Linked DNA regions of Homo sapiens: regions 2 and 3 are each linked to region 1. The links come from fine-mapping of genetic effects on gene expression. A gene starts in region 1. Each other region holds a variant in brackets. All regions are shown on one strand. Distances are from middle to middle. Region 1 holds the start of ST3GAL1 (ST3 beta-galactoside alpha-2,3-sialyltransferase 1). Region 2 overlaps ST3GAL1 (ST3 beta-galactoside alpha-2,3-sialyltransferase 1). Region 3 overlaps ST3GAL1 (ST3 beta-galactoside alpha-2,3-sialyltransferase 1).

What was found. PIP is the estimated chance that this variant, and not a neighbour inherited with it, causes the effect.
Region 2: its variant is the best candidate, but not a certain one, in a credible set for the expression of ST3GAL1 in whole blood (TOPMed, PIP 0.83).
Region 3: its variant is the best candidate, but not a certain one, in a credible set for the expression of ST3GAL1 in blood mononuclear cells (TOPMed, PIP 0.68).

Annotation. Positions count from the first base shown.
Region 1 is chr8:133,567,469-133,575,734 of GRCh38, forward strand. ST3GAL1 (ST3 beta-galactoside alpha-2,3-sialyltransferase 1) reads right to left here and starts at 4,419. Exons shown (of 10, transcript NM_173344.3): 1 at 4,225-4,419. It overlaps ST3GAL1-DT (ST3GAL1 divergent transcript), which reads left to right and starts at 3,104. Exons shown (of 2, transcript NR_186509.1): 1 at 3,104-3,402; 2 at 3,590-6,388. RefSeq lists enhancers at 2,179-2,248, 2,206-3,059, 2,419-2,638 and silencers at 4,429-4,918, 5,109-5,168.
Region 2 is chr8:133,479,487-133,487,752 of GRCh38, forward strand. The region is part of intron 3 of ST3GAL1 (ST3 beta-galactoside alpha-2,3-sialyltransferase 1); the gene reads right to left. Among named protein-coding and RNA genes, the nearest start is that of ST3GAL1-DT, 87 kb to the right of the region's middle. RefSeq lists an enhancer at 3,156-3,205. The variant T/C (reference allele first, on the strand shown) is at 3,799.
Region 3 is chr8:133,467,345-133,475,344 of GRCh38, forward strand. The region is part of intron 5 of ST3GAL1 (ST3 beta-galactoside alpha-2,3-sialyltransferase 1); the gene reads right to left. Among named protein-coding and RNA genes, the nearest start is that of ST3GAL1-DT, 99 kb to the right of the region's middle. The variant C/T (reference allele first, on the strand shown) is at 3,464.

The DNA of each region.
Region 1 (8,266 bases):
AGTGAAAGGGCTGACCAAAGTGATTTCTAAGGTCATGTTCAGCTTGTGGATGGGAAGCAAAACAGGCCCTGGTGAGATCACTGGGGTTCCTTCTGCAATATGTACCATTTGGGAGTCCCCACAGATGGCACCCTGGCTCTGTCAGGTTTCAGACCTCAGAGTCTGAAACTTCTGGGACTGCTTTCAAAATCTAGCGTTGAGAACTGCTAGAAAATGACTTTGCCAAGCGGGTGTGGGCTCCGAATGGTCCTGGCCACTCTTTGAGAGGGGAGATGCCCTTGGCATGGGGTAGTAGACAGTCCAGCTGCCCCAAGCCAGGGTTGTCTGTGATACCGGGAGGGTTTTGAGGATGATGCTGGCTGAAGCAAACATAAATCAGGTGGTGGCTGTCTTCACAAAGAGAAGCTTTTAATGGACCCTCAGTGACGGGCAGCAGAACTCTAAAGCCTTGCTCTCTTTTTTTTTTTTTTTTGAGACAGTCTCACTCTGTCGCCGAGACTGGAGTGCCATGGCACGATCTCAGCTCACTGCAATCTCCACCTCCCGGGTCCAAGTGATTCTCCTGCCTCAGCCTCCTGAGTAGCTGGGTACTACAGGAGCCCACCACTATGCCCGGCTAATTTTTGTATTTTCAGTAGAGGCAGGGTTTCACCACATTGGCCAGCTGGTCTCAAACTCCTGACCTCAAATGATCCACCCACCTCGGCCTCCCAAAGTGCTGGGATTACAGGCCTGAGCCACTGTGCCCAGCCAAGCCTCTTATTTTGAGAGTGAAACTGAGACCCAGAGCCTGGAATAGTTTGGGAGCCAAGTTGCAAAGTAACTGAGCGCTGCCACTGGGACTCAAATGCAGGCTCTCACAGGGCCCCGGTCTGGGCTCCTGTGACCAAATTAGAGCAGAAGAGAGCTCTCAGCTCCTCAGGTGTGCCAGCAGGGATGCTGAAGTTTCCACAAAGTCTACACAACGGAACGAAGCTGCATCTAAGTCTTATTCTAGAATTCTTTGTGACCGGGCCAGCTCTTCCATCAGCCTGTGGAGTGTATGCACACAGGCATGCAGAACTCACTGGAAAGCTTTTACAAGATGGCTGGTGGATTTTATTTTTTGCTTTCCTGGTCGCTTTTGGTGGTGTGGGAGGGGCCTAGAGTGAGGGTTAATGTTTAGATCCCTGGCCAAAGCTCTACCCAAATATAAACCCTTTGAGTCAGCAACCTTCTACACAGGAACTGACTCAAGCAAGGTTACCTGACCAGAAGCCTCAGAGTCACACATGGGAGAGGGCCCTTCCTTGGGTAATGTCAACTGCCTGCCTTTGGGTGGTGTCCTGGCTCGGGGGCTGCTTGGTGGGGAGGGGAGACAGAGATCTACCTCACCCCCAAAGACCCAGGACCTAGAAGGACTCCTTCCTGTCAAGCTCACAGACGACTTCATCCCCATAAGAAGGGCTTCCAGATCAGCGACAGCCAATGCTGTGAGCGCCACCAGGGAAGGGGGGCAGTACAGCCCTGATTACAATCAGCAAGAAGGCTGCTCAGAAGGCAGTTTCCGCCTGCTGCTGCAGAGCTTCGAGGAACAGACTCCACACTCCCTAAGAAACCCTCCTCTGCCATCACTTCTAGCAACGCTTCCTGTTTTTCTCTCTCACCCTGGGTGGGGTGCTGTGGCCTCCCAGCCAGGGAGGTAGGCAACAAAGGCCCTGCTCAAGCCCAGGTCCTGGCCTTGTCCAATCAGACTCTAAACAGCAAATGCCGGCCCAGAAAAATGCAGGGAAAGCAAACTTCAGGGTTTGTGGGATTTTGAAAAGGCAAGAGGAGAAGGAGCCCTCTATTCATTCTTTATTTAGCAAAAAGTGTACGATGGAACTTTTTTCCCTAGACCTGAAGTCAAGGTATACACATACACACATGTAGAGTATGAACTACCTATACATACACACATTCACTTAATTATATGTATTATCGCCACTCGCAATTATGCAGAACGTATTTTGGAGAATGTATTATTGGCCTCATTTTGCAGATATAGAAACTGAGACGCCGAGAGGTTAAGTCTGGCGACCAAAGAGAGACAGAGACAGAGAGACGGGAGACTAGAAGAGGCCCCACGCTGTACCCAGATATTGGCAGAGGCTGAGGGGCACGGAGTGGTGAACTCTAGTCAGTCATTTCAGCCAACCATGGGATTTCAGAAAACAGCCGGCAGGGGTCCTAATGTTTGGGGCAGGAAGGGGAGGTGCGGGAAGGCACTGAGGGACCCCCGCACTGGGCGCCCCTTCCCCACCGCAGAGACAAGCGGCAGTTTCCACAGCAGCCGGCAGGGGGCAGTGCACCTTGCCTTTTCGAAGCCTCTGGGCGCTTGGGCAGCGCGGGGTAAAGAAAATCAGGAGGCTCCGCCCGCAGCTTCTACGAACAGGCCAGGAGTAGAGCCCCCGCACGTAGTAGGTGCTCCAGGCACGTCTAGAAGCCTAAAGGGCTTGGTCGATACATTTGAACTCCATTTTAGAGACTGGAAGGGAAGAAGGGGGCGTCCGGGCCCCTGCCAGCACCTTCCACCTTGGGGCCTTGTCAATGAACACTGCGTTAGCACCTACGACGTGCCAGGCGCCCTGGCGACTATTGGAAAACCCGGCTCCCCTCTCACCCCGTTTTCCTCGTTGGCGAGTCGGCCTCGCCTCCTCCTCCCGTCTCTTCCTCTCACCACACACACCCAGCCGCAGAGCGGGGGTGGGCGCTCGCTGTCTCCCTGGAGAACCAGCTCGTCGCAAACTTGCGGGGCTTGGGGACCCGCGAGGGGGAGAAGTCGGGAGAGGCCAGGGGTGCCCGGAAACAATCACGAGAAAGCCGGGCGAATGCCTGATGCAGGGACGCGGCGAGCCAGTCACTGCCCTCAGGGTCACGGCTGACTCCCTCTGCGGGACTCGCCCAGCCCGCGAGACGCAGTGACCTGCCCAACCCCCACCCCCTTGCGCGCTTCTGGGTGCGCACGTGTCCCCTCGCCCAACACACCACCGAGCCCCGCGCATGGTACGGCCGCCGAGGACCCTAGCGTAGGAGGGAGGAGCGAGTCAGGGCTCCAGCTGACGAGCAGAGCCAGACGATCCCCACACGCTTCCTGGGAGACCCGGCTGCAAGGCCAGGCTAATGCGCGCTCCGACGTCTCTGTGCCAAGCCGGGGCGCAAGCTCAACCCCCATCTCAAGTTCAGCCGCGCTTCCTCCCGCAAGGTCACGCTTAAACACTCGCGCAGAGAAAGGAGGAGCGGAAAGTTGCGCCACCGTCCCGATTCCAAACTAACTGTACCCTCACCAGAGCGCCTCGCCCCAGGGTCACCGCTGTCCGTCCCCGTGCGCTCCCAGAAGGGGTGGCCCTGCCCCCACGCAGGTCACACACACGAGAGACACAGGCAAGTTGCTAACTTTTGTCAGATTATTTCTTGGGAGCTGCGACGCCTCACGGGGTTGGGGCGGATTCAGAGTTTCGAGTTGCCACTAACACGACTCCGGCCGTGCTCTCCTTGGCCCACCCGCGTCCCCCACTGTCCGCCACGCCGCGTTCAGCTCTCTTGTCCCGGGTGTCAACTTCACCCCCAGATCCGGAGCAGCGCGCTCTGACGGCGTCCCCGGGGCCGATAGCCACCTCCCGGATCTGCGCCTGCTTGCAGCGGATTGGGGGACTCGATCCGGATACTGTCCCACGGCCGCTCGTCCAGAACACTGGCGGCCTCCGCGGTGTCCCAGCCTGTGACCCCAAATCCGCTCGAGAGCGCCTGAGCCCGGCCACCCAGCGAGGTCTCCTCCCACGGGCGGCCCCAGCGGAGGAGATCCCAGCCCGGCGCCGGGTGCAATGTCACTGGGGCTGCTTTCGGGAACCGCTGCCCGGGACTTGGCGTAGGTTCCCCACAGAGCTCCAGGCAGCTCCTCCAGTGTCGGCCGAAGACCCCTAAGCCCGAACCTCCACCCCGACCTTCTTCCTCTCCCAAAGCCCTGGGTGGTCGCCGCTGCCAAGGAAGGGGTCTCCCTTCGAATGTCTTCCACTAGAATCCCGGGGTCTTCAGTCCCAGCTCCACTGTCACACCCTCCTAGTCCCCTCCCCACCCCTTCAGTTCCCGGGTCCAGACAATCAACCTTCCACTCCGAGAATCCACAGGAAACTGCCCGAGCCCCAACTCAGGCGGACGCAGCCCCCGCGCACCCCGAGCAGGGTTCGCCTCCGCGCGCGCACTCACCACGGCTGGAGACACGCTGGAGTTTCCGGGATTTGGGCATGAAGGGGTTCGGAGGAGAATACAGGGGTGTGGGTGTCCCGGACACTTGCCCCCTTCCCAGCTCACATCGCCTCTTCCTTCTCTCTCCGCTCTTCTTCCTCCTCCTCCTCCCTCCGGTCTAGGGCTCTTTGTCTTTGCAAAGTGTCGAAACTGTCTGGCATAGTGGGCTCCGCCGGCGGAGGCTGGAGCCGAGGAAGCGAGGAGGCGGGATGAGGGTGGGAGAGGGCTCGGGAACACCTTCCCCCGGGTGTAACGGGAGTGAAAGGCGGGGCGACCGAGGAGGGGCCGCCTTCCCTGGCCGGCCGGGGCCGGGTGCCAGGGCGCGCCAGAGCCCAGCCACCGCCTCCCCTGCGCGCGGCCCTCCCCTTCCTCCGCCCAGTGCCCGCCCCTCCCGACTCTGCGCCTCCGTTCGGCCCCGCCCACCCCAACTTGGCTCGGCTTTCCCTTGGCTCCGGGCTTCCTGCAAGCCGAATTTAGCTCTGCCAAGCCACGTGGACCGCAGCGGGCTCGGCAGAGGCCGAGCCTGGGAGACGCCGGAGGCGGCGGCTGCGGCGCGGGGACCTGATCGGCGCCCCGAGAGGAGCTCCCCGCTCTCTGGACGCGGCCCTCAAGCTGGCGGGGCTAAGGAAGAGCGCCCGGGAGGCCCGGGAGCCACTGGGGTCCGTTTCAGCAGGAAGACGGGCACGCACCGAGAGGATGGCAGTGCCCAGAAGAACTCGAGTCGGGGGCACGGTGGGGAGAAGGGGCCGATCCCCTGCTGGCGACCGGGCAGAGCCACCCACTTCCTCTAAGGGCGCGGGACTCGAGGTGGGATTTAGGGAGGGGGAAGGGAGGAGCGTGGGCTGGACGACTCTTGCGGCCAGAACCGCGTTCAGAGCCACAGAGCCGGGCACTGCGGCCGGCCCTGGTCCCGGCCCCGGCCCTGGCCCAGCCCTTGCCCTGGCTCGCCTGCCGCCGCTTTTTCCTTCCAGATGCGGAGGCTGCGGCTGGAGCTTGGGGTTTGCGGATTAGGCTTGCAGTTATTCAGCCCTCCCTCTTTTACAGGGAAGCGGGGGCGGTGGAGACTTCTTTTGCTGAAAGGCAGAGTGCAGCGCTTTGATGCTAAATGCAGTACACAAGTCATGTAAATCTGGTTTTACGGTTCTTAACCCCTTACTGAGACTACCTCTTTCGCAACTTTTCGGAGGAATGTTAGAGGAAAGAGGCACAGTTTGCCTTTGGGGTCATTGCATCCTTCCAGCGCCCCTTGCTCCAGCTGGAGAGAGATCAACCTTTTGCAGTGGAAGGGGAGAGTCCCCCAGCCTTTGTTTCATCAGACGGCTGCTGTAGTACAGGGATTCAGGCCAGGGCCCGCATGGCCGGACTTCTTGGTTCAAATCCTGCACTGCCACTCAACGGATGTGTGAGCTTGGGCTAGTGACTGAACCTCCCAGCCTAGGTGACTCTGTGCCTCGGTGTCCTCATCTGTGAGAACCGACCTAAGAAGTGTCTGTCTGATAAAGCTGTTGTGATGAGTTAGTGAATTCGTACACATAGAACCTTTAGAACTGTCTTTGACATGTAGTAAGTCAGCTGTGTAGATGGTGGGTTTCTCCAGTGTCAGGTCCCTGCCCACAGCAGGAAGATGACCTGTGCTAGAAGATGGGGGCTAGGGTGTTGGGGAAGACTTCAGGGACTTGGGAGAGAAAAGGAGAAATATTCAGAGATGAGAAAAGTAGAAGAAAAACCAGCTTTTAAAAGGGGGAGGAGAGAGAATGAGAAAAATAACTACTAGAAAGGGAAGGAAAAGATGAATAGCCTTTTAGGTACTTCGGGACCTGCTCTGAGACCTCTTGCCTGACGCCCTTGGTTTTTGATAGAATTCTAGAGAAGGGGTGAGCCCTTTTGTCTGCCTGGACACATCCTGTGGGCTTTCCTCTTTCTGAAACTCAGGTCAAGGTGTTCACTGCATCTCCAGATTGCTTGTGTGCATGGGAGGAGGGGGGCAGAGAGTTCTGCTTACATCGGCTACTGTCCCCTCCACCAGCAGCGTCTTCCAGCAAAGAAGAGCTTCTAACATGCACCAGACTTTTAGCTTTGGCTGGGAATATCGTCTGGGCCAATAAAGAGTTTTTGGATGAAATAACAAAAGTGTTGTTTATTGTATGGATCAAATAATGTATGGGAACATATTCGAAAAATAGAAAATGCTATACTCATATAAGACTATGCTACTATATCCTAGTAGATTCTGTGGAAAGAGGATCAGATTTGGCAAGTAAGGAGCCCCAGGTCATCCAGCTGTTGCACTTTGCAGCCAAGAACCAAAAGCAGCTCAGTTTTAGCTGAGTTCTTACTGTATGTATTCCACGTGCAATACTGGCAGTGCAGTAGTTTTGTTTATACCAGCATCACCACAAACATGTGAGTAATGCATTGAGTTGATGTTCTGATCACTAGGCACAGGAGTTTTTCAGCTACATTAATATATTGTGAGACCACTGTCTTACATGCATGTGGTCCATCATTGACCAAAATGTTATCCAATGCATGACTATATATGTGAATAGTGTAGATTGTATGGGTTCTGCCAAACAGTTCTGCTAACGCAAATCCCACCAAGATTCTCAGGGTTGGAGGGAGGCTTCAGGACCATGTCTTGGAAGTTCCCCTGGATGACTCCATAGTGAGATGGAAATTCCTTATTAATTGACATTGTGGTGAAACACACATAAATCACCACCTTATTTGAATAAAACATTGTACATCAGATGCATCTTTAGTTCATCTCTGAAGGGTTAACCTGGGCAAGGCCTTTTCTGAAAGCCCCACTTTCTTTCTGTTAAGTTTCTTCCCAGGTAACAGGGACAGCCTCTCCCTCTCCCTTTTTTTCCAGAGTTTTGACATTCCATGCAAGTAGCTCTCTTAACACCCCCTTTTAGGACCCTTGCCAGGGGCTGTGTGTCAGAAGTGTGTGCATGCATTCCTCTTTGTCACCCTGAGTGTATGTCCCATCACATCCTGCCAGAGAACAAGGATCATAGTCATTACTGGGAGTGTCTTCACAGTGGGTCTCCAGGGAGCGCTGACATTGATTTACTGCATGCTGCCACCTCCTACCTTTTGGAGCACCAGCAAAGCTCTCAGTAATGATGGTTAAGGAAATTGATTTCATCCTTTCCCTACCCCCGTTTCTTGGCACAGCAGAGTGGAAAGATCCTAATGGGTTCTGGTCCCATTTGGGTGATTGTGCAGAAAAGAAAAGGGCTGCACCACTTGTCAGAGATGAGTTCAGAGGTGCTGGGCACAGCACATGGTGTTTTGTGTTTTAGACAGTGTTTTCCTTAGGGCTCTTGGGACTGTGAGGAACTCACTCAAGTTTCTTTAGAAAAAAGAGTTTTAATGTAGAGATGTGCAGACTGAAGCTGAAAACAAGCTGCAAGGAGAGAGAGCCCATCTCTGTGTTTCTGTCTCCCTCCCGACCCCCACCGCTGCCCCCCCTCCCCCTCTCCGCTCTGTTCTCTCTCTGCCCACAGGCTTTCTCTGTTAAATCCTGGGGTCTGTTCTAAAGTTTTCTGCATGTTTATGGCCTCAGCCTTTCTGCATCCTGGCAATTGTGGAAATAATCTTTTCAGCTTCACTTCCCACTGTGGTTCCACCAGGTGTTTTAGTTTTTCCAGGAGAGGAATCTGACTGACAGGCCTCATCTACAGAGTCATGAATCACCAATCCAATACTGGATGGACTGCCCAGGCAGCCTGAGCTCATCCCATGAATGACTGTGCAGAAGGACAGTCCTCCAGGAGATGATGCATTAGAGGGAGTGTAGGAGACATGGTCCTGACTCTGAGAATCTTGGCAGGCATTTGAGTTAGTAAACTATTTGGCAGAACCCAGCCACACTTCTCACATGTACAGTCGTTCACTGAGTAATGACGTTTTGGTCAAAAAAGGAATGCGTATATGAGAGTGGTCCCCTCTGATGACACTGATAAATTCCTGTCACCTAGTGGTGTAGCTGGCA
Region 2 (8,266 bases), 88 kb before region 1:
TATAATGAGCAGGGCCTAGGACACCCTTGCCCTTAGTGCCTCTGCACCCCTAATGCCAGGGCAGAGATGAGTTCCCTGAAACAGATGACTGTTGATCCGTGTTGATCAAACAAGGCTCTGGATGAGAGGTCAGGTTTCCTACAATGTCCTGCCTCTGCGTGAGAGATATTAATGCTCTAGGCTGCTGCTAGGGATGGCGTGAGAGGCAGGGCAGAGGGCAAGGTTGTGCTGCACAGGTTGTGGGACTGTGACAGCCTCCTCTCCTCTGGGGCATCCTGCAGCCACACCTCCAAGGCCAGGGCACTCCCCATAACCATCAGAGGCTTCTGAGCTGGTATCATTTAGCGCTTTCCAAAGCCCTGGATAAAACTGCAATGGAAAAGCAAGAACACCGCTATACCCCTTCCCTGGCTGCAGGGAAGAAACCAGGACTGCATGTCTTCTCCGTGCTCTAGCAAGCGTGGGGCAGCCTGCAGGCATGGGGGAATGCCAGCCCTGGCTCCCGGAAATGACATCTGGGCCAAGACGCCACAGACCAAAGATCTCTGCATGTCAAGTGTGCGGTGAGGGAGGCCGGGCCCCCCAGAACAAGGAGAAAGAAGAGAGGGAGCAGGGAAGGATGGGGAAGGAGGGAAGCTGGCTCCCTGTCCTCTGCCAAATGGCAGTCATTTCCCAGCCACATGCTCAATACGAGGAGGCATGAAGCACCTGCACACAACAGAGCTTAGCGGGGTCACCAGCACAAGACTGACAAATGTCAGCACACTTTTGGGGACTGAAAAGTAAGAATTTCCCTAAGGAGAGTCCCTAATGAAGATAAACTCCTCTGGCAATAGGGAGTTGAGGGGCAATGACCAGAGACTGAGAGAACTGTGTGAAACTCCTGGAAACACAAATGAAGGAACCACACGGGGTTTTGAACCTGTAGTAAATACCCACTGAACGGGATGGTAGTAAATACCCATCACAGGCTGGGATGCCCTCCCAGCCCTTCACACAGCCCCTGGCACTATGGTCACTAGAGAAATGCCTGAGCGAACTGTGCAGGCTGTTGGCAAAATTGACGCTTTCAATACAGAGTGGCCACAACTTTCCTCATGTGATCCCCAAGCCACCAGGAGAGGTGGGTAACCCTTACGCTTGTCTCCCTGAAATGAAAAACTAAAACCCAGAGAAGGCAAGTGACTTATCCAAGGTCACACAGCAAAATGGTAGCAAAGGCAGACTCCTGCCTTCTCCTGTGGCTTTCTGTGTAGCCGTGGCTCATCATTCAATTCCATCAATACCTGCTCTTATCTTCCCTATCTTCCCCATTCCCTTTCTGATAACTTCTTTGGACTTGGTTTACTGTCATCTTTCCAGCCTTGTTTACTCCCCCTTCTTGCTGTGCCTACTCTATTTGAATTATGAATTCAGTTCTTCATTTCAGTGGTGTCTTTTAGTTCTGGAATTTCTACCTAATTTTTTGACAGGTTCTACTTTGCTGGTGAATTTCTCCACCTTGTCATCTATCTTTGTGCAATTTTATTCACCACAGCCGTCTTAAAGCCCACATTGGATATCCTGTGATACTTGGATAATGTGGGTGTATTTCTATTGTCTATTTTCTCGGTTGCTCTTTCTTTCTTTGGTTATTTGGTTCTGTCCTTGGCAGGCCTGGTTGCTGTTTGTATTGTGTATGACAAAAATGCAGAGGCTCTGGATGAGGCTGTCCTCCTTCAGAGAGGACCGGTTGTCTCCTGATGAGCAGGTACAGAAGTGGCACATTACTTTGTTCTAACTGCAGCTGTGTTTCACTTTTCATGAAGACTGGTCTATTTCTGGTTTACTCTTACCCCTGGGGCATAGCCGTTCTCAACAGGTAAACCAAGATGCTTATCAGGGTGACTCTTCCTTACAGGCTCCTATCTCCAATTTCTGTCTCCCCTGTACTATGAGATCACCGTAAGCTTAACTTTTTAGCCTTTCTTTTTTGTTTGTTTGGGTTTTTTTGTTGTTGTCATTGTTGTTGTTGTGTTTTTGGTTTTGAGATAGAGTCTTACTCTGTCGCCCAGGCTGGAGTGCAGTGGCCTGATCTTGGCTCACTATTACCTCCACCTCCTGGGTTCAAGTGATTCTCCTGCCTCAGCCTCCTAAGTAGCTGGGACTATGGGCACATGCCACCATGCCTGGCTAATTTTTGTATTTTTAGTAGAGACGAGGTTTCTCCATGTTGGTCAGGCTGGTCTCGAACTCTCGACCTCAGGCGATCCACCCACCTCGGCCTCCCAAAGTGCTGGGATTATAGGCATGAGCCACCATGCCCAGTCTTTTTAGCTTTTCATCTGCTGTTTTCTGCTTGGTTTCTTAGACTCTGGACCCATGAAACTTAAGTGCTGGCAAATGCCTTGAAAGGAAAATTTTAGAAGGCACAGAGCACATGTTCTTTTCTTTGTGGTTGTTTTTGCTCTAGGTTCTTGGTTCCTTGGGTTTTGGTTGACCTAGCAGTCCTGAACTCACTGACTCCCTCTACCTACCTACCTATCTCTGTTTTGTTTCCCCACCTTGCGAGACTGCCAAACACTCTGAACTGCTGCTCTCTGCTCGTCCTCTGAACCCTCTGCAAAAATCAGCACATACCTCGTGCAGAAAATGAGCAGGGAATATTGGGTTTCTCCCAACTTATTTCCTTTCTCTTGGGGGGTCTTCGCACCTCAAGTCCTGGCTGCTTTAGTTGTTCTCTAATGCCTTCAAAGAGCTGGATTTCAAGTTTTTCCAGCTTTTATAGTTCTCAGTGGGAGAAAAGATCTGGTACAAGCTTCTGCCATTGCCCAAAGTAGAAGTCACAGCATCTTTTCTTTGCCTTTCCATGTTCCTGTTCTTGGAGTGGTTGCCTGTATGTGTCACGGGCGTGGCAAATTCAGAGAAGAGGATGGGGCCCAGAGAGGCCCCAGAGGTGCCGAGGCAAACCTCCTCACACCAGCCAAGTGCACAGATGGTGGGAGGAAGAGGCAGATCTGCAGGCTGGAAAGTTGCAGCTGCAGCCATGGCAGCCACCACCTCCCTGCCCCACCCAAGCGGCCCCACTGCATCTGCTTTCACTTTATGTCAGAACCTCCTGCTCCCAGGCCAGCTCTGCACAGACAGTGAGATGACTTCCAATGCAACACATCCGGGGACTTCCCATTATTGAAAAACAGATCCTCCCATGTCCTGGCCTTTGGGATCCTGGCCGGCTGGCTTCATGTATGGGCACAGGGTGGGACCAAGTAAGACCTGACCAGTAAATCTTGGATACTTAATGGCCCTCAAACCTTCCAGTAAGAAGAATGACTCCTTTCTGAACTGCTGTCCGGCCCATGCCTGGTCACTGGACGCTTGGAACCCATTTATTCTGGTTTTGTGAAGAATTTCCTAGTGGATCATGGCCAACAGTTGTCAACAACAACAACAACAACAACAACAAAGGCATGAGAGACCTGCATGCAAATCCTGACTCTTCCCATTCCTGGCTGTGTGTTCATAGGCAAGGCACTTGCCCTCTCTGATCCTCAATTCCTGAATCTACAAAATAGGATTAAAAATGCTCACGCAGGCCGGGCATGGTGGCTCACGCCTGTAATCCCAGCACTTTGGGAGGCTGGGGTGGGCGGATCACTCGAGGTCAGGAGTTCGAGACCAGCCTGGCCAACATGGTGAAACCCTGTGTCTACTAAAAATACAAAAATTAGCCGGGTGTGGTGGCAGGCACCTGTAATCCCAGCTACTTAGGAGGCTGAGGCAGGAGAATCGCTTGAACCTGGGAGGTGGAGGTTGCAG[T/C]GAGCTGAGATTGCACCACTGCACTCCCGCCTGGCCGACAAAGTAAGACTCCATCTTAAACAAACAAACAAACAAAAATGCTCACACGAAGCGTTGCTGTGGGATAAATGGCCTTGCACAAAAGTGAACAGCTCAGTTCCCGCCACAGAGTAGATGACCACAAAGGTCAATTCTGTCTCTCCCCACTAAGCTTCAAGGTCCTCATTTGTAAACAAAAAGGAAAAAGTCCAGCAGAACCCTTGGCCTGTCCTACTCGCAGGGTTATTTAAAAGACCAAATGAAATCAGGCATCAAATCATGCAAACCAGTGGTATTACACAAATGATGATTCTGGCCGAATTCATTATTTGTGTGAATTCCTTGATGTGCTGAACAGCTAAATCTTCATGCTTTCTACTCCCGTGGCCAAGACCTCCCAGGACCTGCAGGAAGGAGCTCCTAACACACTGGGGGAAATGTCAGGGTTCCCAGGGGCTCCCAGACCCAGACTCTGCAACAGCCTTGCCTTGGGTCAGGAGGCAGCTGGTCCCAGAGGCTTATGTAGAGAGTCAGGCCCACCTGAGTTTGCCACCAGCTTTGATCTTCCCCAGGAAAAGGTTCCTCAAAATTGCTCTGGTAGCTCCAATTTTCCACTCTCCAATCAGTCTTTTTTCCCACACACTTGGAAACGCAGATGCATTGTCTTCTGAAGTATCCAAGATTTACACATCCGCAGGAAAGCCTGGCCACCTCACAACCTCCGACTGCCAGTCTTGAATTGGGGGTCATCTCTTTTTTTGCATTGTTTTTTATAGTTTGCCAAAACAGTCACAGCTGCCATCCATTTGACCCTTTCAGCAGCCCCATTCACTGGGTGGTGAACAGAATATGGGTATTGGGGGTCAGCCAGATCTGGGTTTGATTCCTAAATTTCCGACCTCCTAGCTGAGAGGTCTTGGGTAGGGACCTCGTCTACCTCATCAGGCTCAGGGCCTGCACCAGCAAGATGGGGAAAATCACATCTCTTCAAAGGTTCACATGAGAGTTAAGTGCATAAATGCTTCACATTTAACAGATGCTTAATACACGGGAGTTACCTTCACTGTCAACTTGCAGACAAGAAAACTGAGGCTGAGGGAGGGCAGGCACCTGGATTGAGTTAAAACAACTAGGAGATGGCAGAGCCAACTTGGACCAGGTCTTTTGTATCTTTGGGATCAATGTCTAAACGTTTCTTTCCTCCCTCCTTCCTTCCCTCCTTTCCTACACACTCTGTGCTCGGCATGGGTCCCCAGGAAGAAGATGCTGTCTCTGGAAGCTGAGTGTGTGGAACTTCCACATGGAACTCTCCCAGCGCAGTCCCTTGTGCCCCTGTGTTATTACAAGGGAGTGTGTCTGACCTCCACTTTAATCCCTCATTTGGAGAATCAGCCTAATAAGAAACCTGGGCCAAGTGAGTCAGAGCTAGAGGCACCTGGTTGGAAGCCTTGCTGGGCTTTAAAAAGCCCACCCCGCCCCAGGATTCCTGCCACCTGTCCATCCCCCTGAAGCTAAGGGGTACTCCTGGCCTGATACCGCTGACCCTGGGTGATGAGGCCTTCTCTTTGCTGATGTCCTTAACCCTCCCTGCTCCCTGGGTATCACGCACTGGGAATTGTGATGGGAGACTGTTCAGAAACATTTAAGAACTCAGCAAACTTGTAGCTATGATCAACGAATAAGGCTAGAAGCTAGAGTGGTATCTGCAATCCACATGGCTCAAATCCCATATTGAGAGTTGCATCAATCCTGCCTGCATTCGAGGGTTCTCAGGGCACCCTGTTTCTTGCTGCCAGCAGGGGTTCCTATGCTGGCCACTGTCTACAGGAGTGAGAGTTTGTTCCCACTCGCTGTGTGCTTCCCCTAACTGCAGGGGCTGGAAGCCTGGGAACTACATTTCCCAGCATCCCTGTCCATAGCGCTTTGGAAGTAGTTGAGATCTGACCAGTGATAGCTGGGACGGGCAGGTGGGCGAGGCAAGAGCCTTCCTTCCTCTGGCAGTGGTAGAAGCTGCTGTGTAGCTGCCCCAGAATCTGGACTCCAGAACCTGCCTTCTTCTACCTCCAGGCAGCGGGGCAGCTGCAGATTCTGCCCTGACTTCCTGAAGCTTCGTGGCCTGTGGGCCTCAACCTGAAGCATTGCAGCCCAAACCCTGGAGGTCCCCCATTCTCACTGCCCTTCCAAGAACTTCATAAGCACCTGGATCCCCGAATCAAATCCTCACGCTTCAAGCTGCTGCCTCACTTCAGTCCACAGATGTGGAAGCTGAGCTCAGAAACGGGAAGTGACTTTTCCAAGGATACACAGGAAAAGTGCACCAGGGCTAAAGAAAACCAGATGCCCAAGTCCCAAGACCCGCTTGACTCCTTAGAAAAAACCTGCTGTATTCTACAGGGTGGCTACCCCGGAGTAGGTGTTCTTCCCATTCCCAGGGGCAGGATCTTAGGAGGTGTCATGGGCTGCAACTGAAAAGAGAGGGTGGAGCTTTGGGGGGGATAGAAGGTCGGGAGTTGGTTTAGCTGCTGCCACAAGGGGTGGGGGGCTGTTTGCGGTGACCCCCAGGAAGTTACATGGGCTGCTGAGCCTCAAGTTCCTCATCCATAAAGCGGGGGTTAAAAACCATCCCTACTTGAGGTGACTGCACAGAGCAGTAATGTGTCAACACTGAGGACACCTACCATCACCTTTGTCTTTTCTATACTGTGTTCTAAGCACAATACCGGTGCACATTGGCTGGGCCCACAACAAGCTCCCGATGAAGGTACTGGGTATCATCTCCAGCTTTCAGAGCTGGGACAGAGGCCCACAGTGGTCAAGCCACCTACCCAAGGCCCTCGGCCGGTAGGTGTAAAGTCAGGATTACGGCCAATGCAGAATCCCAACTTCACACCTACTGGTGTGAAGTGGATGGTGCCAGGCTGAGGTCGGCCCCTGCCCTGGGCCTCCTTGCTGTCTGAGCTGTGGAAGAGGAACCAGCCTATCCCCACTCCATGGTGGCACTGTGAGCACTGAGTGGGCTTTGTGTGTGGCGCAGCTCAGGGCCTGGCAGGGGCGAGTGTGAGCCCTCCCTTCCCTTGTTTTGTTTTCTCCTTCCAGCTGGGCTCCACCCGCTCTGAGTCACCCCTGAAGCTGACAGCTGTGCTCTCATGGCCGAGCCAGGCCTGGACCCACTCAACGCCGCTCTCCTCCCCTGGGTCAGGAAGGATCAGCCGTGAGGGGAGCCAGACCCGTTTCCCTCCAGAAAACATCATCCAAGAGAAACAGGGCCACAGTGAGGTGAGGCCTGAGAGGAGGTCCTGGCCACTGCAAGGTAAACAGGTGATGACAAGCTCCCTGTCAATGGCAGGACTGGGGTGGACATTTCTCTCCTTATGTCGATTAAAAAAATCAGTCTCGAATGAAGCCAGCCAGCCAGCAACTGTGCTGCCCTGAGGCTCCCTGCGCCTCCCAGGAGAGGAGAGAACACCCACCCCCAACCCCAGGGACAGCAGCCACGGAGCACAGCGTGACTTGGGCCACTTCAGAAGCCGAGGCCAGTCAGCTCCTCATCTGTAAAATGCAACAATGATCCCAGCCCCTGCTCACCTAGACTTGGCTAATTGAACAAATTAATGACTATTGGTTAGTCCTGAGAGTCACTTTCTTACTTCTTTTTTATTGAGACGGAGTCTCGCTCTGTTGCCCAGGCTGGAGTGCAGTGGTGTCATCTTGGCTCACCATAACTTCTGCCTCCCGGATTCAAGCGATTCTCCTGCCTCAGCCTCTCGAGTAGCTGGGACTACAGATGTGCACCATGCCTGGTTCATTTTTGTATTTTTAGTAGGGACGGGGTTTTACTATGTTGGCCAGGCTGGTCTCGAACTCCTGACCTCGTGATCTGCCCACCTTGGCCTCCCAAAGTGCTGGGATTACAGGCATGAGCTACCACACCGTACAATCATGTTACTAATAATCTTGAATATTTAACACATATTGGAAACAATACTATTGGTATATATATATATATATAGTGCTTAGAACAATTCCTGACCATCACAAAAGAATATTTAACATTAACATTAACATTAGGAAAATGTCACCTACCCAGGATCATCATTCCTCTGAGAAATTCAGAACTGCATATGTGTGTGTGTGGATAATGGCTAGTGGGGTTGAAAATGAAGAAGAAATGGCATGTGTGAGTTTCACACCTACTACATGCAGACCCTTTACATACAGCATCTCACTTTGTCTTGGCAACATCTCTGACTTGGACACTGCCAAGCCCCTTTGTGGATTCTCGCTCTTGCTTTCATTCTTTCATTTGACAATTACTCACTGGGCTCCGGCCATCTAGCAGTTGCTGTCAAGTGCTGAACAAAACAAAAGTTAGACAAAGTAGAATGGCTGGGTGTGGTGGCTCATGCCTGTAATCCCAGCACTTTGGGAGGCTAAGGAGGGTGGATAACTT
Region 3 (8,000 bases), 100 kb before region 1:
TGCCTGTTGGTGCCTCAGCCTTCCTCACTCGTGGTAAACCCTGGAGAGATTTCATAAAAGTGTTGCATCTGACCTTGTCCCCATGCCACAGTGCTGTGTCATTTCACTGTGGGTGAGGTAGGATGCTCTGAGGCCAGAGAGGTAAGCAACTCATCCCAAATACAAACCAGGATTTGAACCCAGGCTTCTAGAAACCCACCAGCAGGTTTCTCCCACCACACAACCCTAACTCTGGCTCTTGGAATCTTGGCCTTTGGAAAGCCCAGACCCTGGATTTTGGGGTAGGGGTGATAAGCTGTGGGGTGATTCCCATCGGCTACTCCGGGCCCCAGGGGCAAGGGGTGGCTGGGAGAGGAAGGAGTGGCCAGCAGTGGCTTTGGCCACTGTCCAGAAGATGAGTGACCTGGGCATATGTAGGGAGATCCCGGGGCACCCAGTCCCCACTGCAATGGAAGGAATCGGATGCCCCAAGGGGAGGCACACAAGCAGAACCAGATTGCTCTTCCAGTTAAACCCAGGCAGCCTCTCCTCTGGCTTAAGACCGTTAGACACGTCATGGGAAGCAACATGATCTGGACCACACTTCACACCCACTGCTACAGTTATCATAAGTAAAAGGGCAAAACAACAGGTATCGGTGAGGATGTGGAGAAAATGGAACTCGTGCATTGCTGGTGGGGATGTAAAACCGTGCAGCCGAGGTAAAAACTGGGTGGTTTTTCAAAAGGTTAAACAGAACAGCCATGTGGCCTACCAGCTCCACTCCTACGTATATACCCCCAGAAATTGAAAGCAGGGTCTCAAGCAGATATTGGTATACCCATGTTCAAAGCAGCATTATTCATAATAGATAAAAGGTGGGAGCAACCCAGTCTCCAGCGATGGATGAATAAACAAACATAGTACGTTCCAGACATATGATGGGATATTATTTAGCTATAAAAAGAAAATTTTGAAATAGGTTACAACATGGATGGACCTTGAAAATACTAATATTATGATTAATGAAAGAAGCCAGACATAGAAGGAAAAATATTATATGATTCCACTTATGTGAGGTACCTAGAGTAGTCAAATTCATAGAGACAGAGAGTGGCAGCGTGGCTGTCAGGGGCTGGGAGGAGGAGGAGGTAAGGGGAAGTTACTGTTTAATGGGGACAGAGTTTTTGCTTGGGATGACAAAAATCTGCTAGTTATGGTTATAGATAATGGTGATTGTTACACACACTGTGAATATATTTAATGCTACTGAATCGTACACACACAAGTGGTGAAAATGATAAATATTATGAATATGTTGTCACACACACAGATGTGATATCCAGATAAAATGCCTGATTCTGATGGGATCATCCAGGGTGGCTCCATGATCCTGAATGTGCGGAAAACCCCCTGGAGGCTTGCTAAGGCACAGATCTTACTCAGTAGGTTTAAAGCTGGCCCCGAAATCCTGCATTTCTAACAGACTCCTGGGTGATGCTGCTGCCAGGGCTGGTGGGGGGACTACACTCTGAGAGCCCCAGGGTAGAGGACCACAGCCAGACTCCCCTGAACCTCCATGGAGGTCTCCAACTAGCAAGGGCTGCTGTGCCCCTTAGGCTTGTAAAGATGTGCCCAGGCCCAGGGGGTGGCCTTCCATCACGCCGCTACTTTGATTTGGGAGCCTGGCACCGTGTATCCATCATGCAGTGACATTTACTGAGTGTCTACTGGGTGCCACAGAGGCCTGAGAAGCCAGGACTCAAGCTCGGCCATGGACGTGTGTGGAGAGTATGCTGCCTGCTTCACACAGCACCACATCATCCTGCTGGACTCTGACTGACTTACTTTTCTTTAATGACTTATTTAAGAAAAATAAATTGATTGATTGATTGATTGATTTGATTTGATTTGATATGGAGTCTCACTCTATCGCCCAGGCTGGAATGCAGTGGTGCGATCTCGGCTCACTGCAACCTCTACCTCCTGGGTTCAAGGGATTCTCCTGCCTTAGCCTCCCAAGCAGCTGGGATTACAGGTGTGCACCACTGTGCCTGGCTAATTTTTGTATTTTTAGTAGAAACACGGTTTCACCATGTTGGCCAGGCTGGTCTCGAACTCCTGACCTCAGGTGATGAACCCGCCTCAGCCTCCCAAAGTGTTGGGATTATAGGTGTGAGCCACCATGCCTGGCCAAATAATAAAAATAAACTTATTAGAAAGGAAACCTCTCATCTCTACCACACGTAGAAAGCAAGAATTACCTGGCAGAAGTAAAATGGTAGTTGTACAATGCAATGAAAACAAAACTACTGTATTCGGTTGCAGCTCTACCCTGCTGCCTGCCCAGGCAAACTCTCCTCTCCCTTAGAACAAGGCTGACAAGCGCTGACAAGGTGCAAAGTAAGACACCAGGCCAAACTGAAGCCCCAGCACTGCAGAGACAGGTGGGAAGGAGGGACGGCAGAAATGACCTCCGGGCTCTGTGATGCGACTTTCTCTAGTGCCCTGCCTCACCTAACATCACAAGCCCCACGCTTCAGAAATCTCAGACCCATTCCAATCTTTCATTGGCAAAAGGGGAAATGGAGGCCCAGACCCTGGAAAGGGCTCACTTGAGGTCCCAGAGTGAGTGCAGGGCCAGGTAGAGCTCAGATGGGAAACTGGCTCTTTCTCTAGATTATCATAGTAAGTCCTCCCCACACCAGCTGAGATGGAGCAGGCAGGTTACTCCATGTGGCGTCACTGTTTTGGGAAAGAAATATTCTGGTTTTCTCTGCCTTTTGTCAGTGGCAATAAAAGAACAACAGTGCTGGCCAGGTGCGGTGGCTCACGCCTGTAATCCCAACACTTTGCGAGGCCAAGGCGGGTGGGTCACCTGTGGTCAGGAGTTTGAGACCAGCCTGACCAACATGGAGAAACCCGGTCTCTACTAAAAATACAAAATCAGCTGGGCGTGATGGTGCATGCCTGAAATCCCAGCTACTCAGGAGGCTGAGGCAGGAGAATCACTTGAACCCAGGAGGCGGAGGTTGTGGTGAGCCGAGATCACGCCATTGCACTCCAGCCTGGGCAACAAGAGAGAAACTCCATGCCAAAAAAAAAAAAAGTATGACAGTGCTACTGATATGAACACAGGACAGAGTGTTTGGAAGTTCAGGGACACGCCCTCTCCAGCCTTCCAGACTAGTTTCCAAGTATATACAATCAGCGCTCAATCTGCATACAATCAGCGCTCAATCAATGCCTGCCGCCTGGTGGCCTGAGCTCCTTGGGAAGCACGGGGCCTCGGGTCAGCTTCCCTGGAAGCAGAGGCTGGGGCACGGATGCAGGTGTCCATGGTGGGTGCTGTCTGGAGAGGGATGAGAAGCAAGGCAGGAGAAGGAAGGGGAGGTCTCCATGGAGTCAAGCACTGCAGGCTGGGGGCGAGGCGAGTGAGGAGTCGGGCAAGTGGGATAAGGAGGCCCACTCATGCCCAGGGGCA[C/T]GGCCCGAGAGCGGACATCTCCTTGAAGCTGGAGCCCTGGGTGCCTCACCTCACCCTGCACTCGGGCATGATCCACAGGAACTCTGGAGCCTGTGCTATGGCAGAGTTTGTCCTGTCTTGAGGCACGATGGCTGGAAGTCCTCCCTATCCACAGGCCACACCCGTCCCGAGAGTGTTGGGAAGAGGTACCCGCGCTCCCTTCCCATCCTCCTTCCTCCTTCCACGGCCAATGAATGATGCATCGCCTTCTGAGAAGCCTCCCTTGGACCCTGGAAATATCAGTCTCTGGCCTTCCACACATGGGTGGCACCACTGGGGCCTCACCGCAGGCCTCATTCCAATCCCCAGCTGCTGTTGGTTTCCCTGGCCCCTTTGGCATCCAAGCAGCAGACACAAGCATGCTAGGTAGTACAGGCTCAAGATATGTCCATTGAATAAGTGAATGACAACTGCTAAAGCTAACACACATTCATTCATTCAACTCATCACAACTGAGCCCCTATCACATCCCCGGTGCCGTGTGGGGTGGACAGGTGGGGTGGACAGGTTAGCGCCGGGACAGGCGGTGCTTAGAAATGGCTCGTGCAGGACTCAGATGGCTCACCCTGAGCAGAAGCGCATGTTCTATGGTTGCCCTATGCAGGACCCTGTGCTGATAACCTGATAGGCAGCTTCTCACTGAGTTTCTATAATGGTTCTATGAGAAAGGTGATCTTATAGACCTATTTTACAGGTGAGGAAACTGAGGCTTACAGAGGTGAAGTGAGTTTCCCAGGACCAAAACAGTTTGAATATCCTGGGCCTGACTCCAGACCATGTCCTTTAACTACAAGGGGATCTGACTGTGCCCTTTGACAGTGGGTGACCTGGTAAGTGCAAAGTGAGGACAATGAGATACCTACACCCTCCTGGTGGTGGGGGTGGTAAGGGCGAAGCAGTGGTACCTGGAAAGCTGGGCCCAGGACCTGGCCAGAGTTGGTGCTAGGCGCCGGGTGGACAGTATGATGGTATTATTTTGCATTTGGGCACTGGGCATGGATGTCTGGGATGGGAAGATGCCTTAGGAGGGCAGGGGGCGGAAATCAGGGGAGGGTCGCACTCTTTCTGTCCCTTGAGAATGTCCCCTGCGTATCACAAAACGGTTTCCCAAGTTGGGGGCAAGTAGAGAAGGCAGAGTCAGCATTCGACATGGCTTGTCTCTGAATTGGACATGGGGACTGGGGAAGAAGGAATCCCTGTTCCTGGGTGTCTGGGACAGAGACCCGAGGAGAGGGTCACAGGGGTCAGTAGGTCCAGCCTGGGATGGTGGTGCAGTCTCTTCACTTGCAGGGCACGGGGCTGATTTGTAAACTCAACTCAACTCAATTTAACTCAACTCAACTCAACTCAACTAAAAGAGTGAGCCCTGGTGACTGCTCCTGTGTCCCTGTTCCTGCCAGGGCTGGGACGAGCTGGAATTGTGATGCCCACTTGACTGAGGAGGACTATGAAGCTCAGGGCAGGATGGGAGCTCGGGACCTCACATTCTCACCTAAGATTCTTCCAACCCCCTCAACAGTATGGGGGAAATCGCCCCCATGATTAATTATCTCCCACCAGGTCCCTCCCACAACACGTGGGAATTGTGGGAGCTACAATTCAAGATGAGATTTGGGTGAAAGCCAAACCATATCATGACCCAAGTCCAGTTCCATTCATGAAATGGTCCTGCCTGCAGGGGGGCCTTTAAGCAGAGCAATGGCGCAGCCTGGAGTTCTCAGGATGGCTTTGTTGTCAGATATTCCATGCCTGTATCCCGATTCTTTATTCAAAGCGTGTGGTTTCCGTATTATCTGTGCATTTTTTAGAACCCCAAAGCTCTAAAGCCCTGCTCCTTTCTGTTGATTTCCAGAGGGTGAAGCCCCATTCCTTCCAAGTGGCTGCCCTGGGATCAGCCACCAGAGGCTAAACTTCAGAAAAAGACTGCAGAGAAGGGCTGCAGGTAGGGGAAGACATCTGGTAAATGGGAAACAACTAAGTGGAAATATATTCAGCCTTAATTAGTACTGAAAAAAAAAAAAAACCCACCTAAGTTCAGTATTACTTGCCCATTAAACCAACAAAAATAAATACAATTGTTAAAACTAATGTTTGCAGGGTTGTAGAGAACCTGGTGAAGTAACATTTCTCCCATGTAACACGAAGGAGGCTGAGACTCAGTGAGATGAAGAGCTTCTTCAAAGTCACTCCTGATGGGACCTACAAACTCTGCGACAAAACCTAGGAACGCTGATGCCAGGCCCCAGTTCCTAAGTCTACATTATAGCCTGTGTTCTTTGAAGACACATGGCTTATATCCAGAAGCTGATGTTTTTCCCTTACGCCTTTTTAACCCTCCTGGGCGACACCAGCCTAAGAGTTTTAGAAACCGCCCTCCCCAAGAAGAAAGATCGATACTGTCTTGGTGATACTCTCTAATAACAGTTTTTAATACGGTATTTCCAGAGGTTGGATTTGATGTTCTCTTTTGCAAAAGTCACCTAACTTTTCTGAGTTTCAGTTTCCTTGTCTGTAAAATGAGGACAAAGGCCCCCAAGTTTCTCCTTTACCTGCTGTTGTGTAAGGTCCCTTCCTGTTTGGTTTATATAAACAGGCTGTGTAGTACCCTGTTTGTCCCCAAAAGGCCTTTGTAAACAGAATCCCATGGTGACACTGAACATCACAGACTCCAGGCTCTGAAGAGGAAGTTTGGACTTAACGTGGTCCCAGCAACTGCTGCTACAGGGGGAATCAGATCCAGAGAGGAGATGGGATGTGTGTGAAGCCACCTCTGCCATCAATGTGTCATTTTCCCAACCCTGCTGGTTCTCAAGGGAGGGCAACTTTGTGCATGCATGTGCACCCACACACACGCACACCCCACCTGGGACACCTGACAATGTCTGGAGATCTTCTGGCTATCGCAACTGGGGATGGGGCACTCCTAGCATTTAGTAGGTAGAGACCAGTGATGCTGCTAAACATCCTGCAATGCACGGGGCAGCCCTTGTGACTAAGGCTGATCCTGCCCCACAAGTCCATAGTGCTGAGGCTGAGAGCAGACCCTAATCCTTACCATGCCTGGCTCGCCACCTCCTTCCCTAGACCCTTGGATCTTTGAAAGGGAAAAGACCCTACCTGCCCGGTTCTCTGTTACCTCCCCAGAGCCCACCCCAGGACCTGCACACAGTGGTGCTCAACACAGATTAGCAAACCAGGACTCAGCCAGGTCTTTGGAAGCATAGCCCAGGGCTTTTGACCTTTCTAAGTCTCACACATGTTTTCTGTTCATTTCAAATAGACCTTCCCCAGAATCTACCTGGATAACCTCTCTGAATCCTTCATGATGAACCTGGCCATCACTCCTGTAGGAAGCCTTCTGCGATAACCCCAGGCTCCAAGGGGAGTTGGACATGAAGACCATCGCTCCTGTGCCCACTTCCTGCACAGCACCTATGGTCCTGGCTTGAGTTTGTCTGTTTTCCCTTCTCTCCCCATCACTCCTGCAACCCAAGAAAGGAAAGACTCTATCTTTTCCATCTCAATGTAGTGATGCTTGGCATATAGTAGGTGCTCAATAAATAAGACATGAACACATATATCTTGCTCTTCTTCGATCTATTTTGCATTTAACATGGGAATGACCTTTCAAATGACAAGATCAGATCATGAAACCCCCTGACAAAAATTCTACAGTGATTTCCTGTTGCACTTACAAGAAATCCCAGAGTCCTCCCCTGGGTCTTGCTGACTCTCAGGCCTCGTCTCACTGCACCTCCCCTGATTTACAGCCCCCCAGCCATGCAGAGCTCCTCTACTCCCCATTACATCCAGCAGAGGCCACCCTCGGGCTCTTGCACCCGCTGTCCCAGACACCTGCAGTGCATGGTCCTGCTCTTCTCATGGCTGCTGCCTTCTCTGCCTGTGGGTCTCAACTTGAGTCCTGCTGTCTCAGAGACCTCCCTGGTGACCCCATTTACAGAAGCCCCCTCTAAGTTTCTATGACAAACCTCATTGGATCTGTCTTCAAAGCACTTCTGTGTGAGCCTACCTTGTTTATTTCTTATCTTCCCCTCCCAGCCAGAATAAAATTCCATGAGAATAAGGATCTCTCTCTCTTTTTGCATTTCAATAGCTGTAGTGGGTGAAATAGTGGCTCCCAAAAAGATACGTTCAAGTGCTAGTCACCGGAATCTGTGAGCATGACATTTGGAAAAAGCGCCTCTGTGGGTGAAATTGTTGAGGATCTCTGCATGAGATCATCCTGGATTAGGGTGGGCCCTAAACCTGATGACAGGTGTCCTCATAAGAAAAGGAGAGGGACATGTGAGACATAAAGGGATACAGGGAGGAAGGCCCTGTGGAAGTGGAGGCAGAGGCTGGACTGCTGCAGCTCTGAGCCCAGGAACGCCCAGCACTGCCGGCAGCTGGCAGGAGCCAGGAGCGGGCCTGGGGCGGCTTCCCCCTCAGAGCCTCCAGGAGGAGCCAAGTCTGCCCATAATTTGTTTTCAGACTTCTG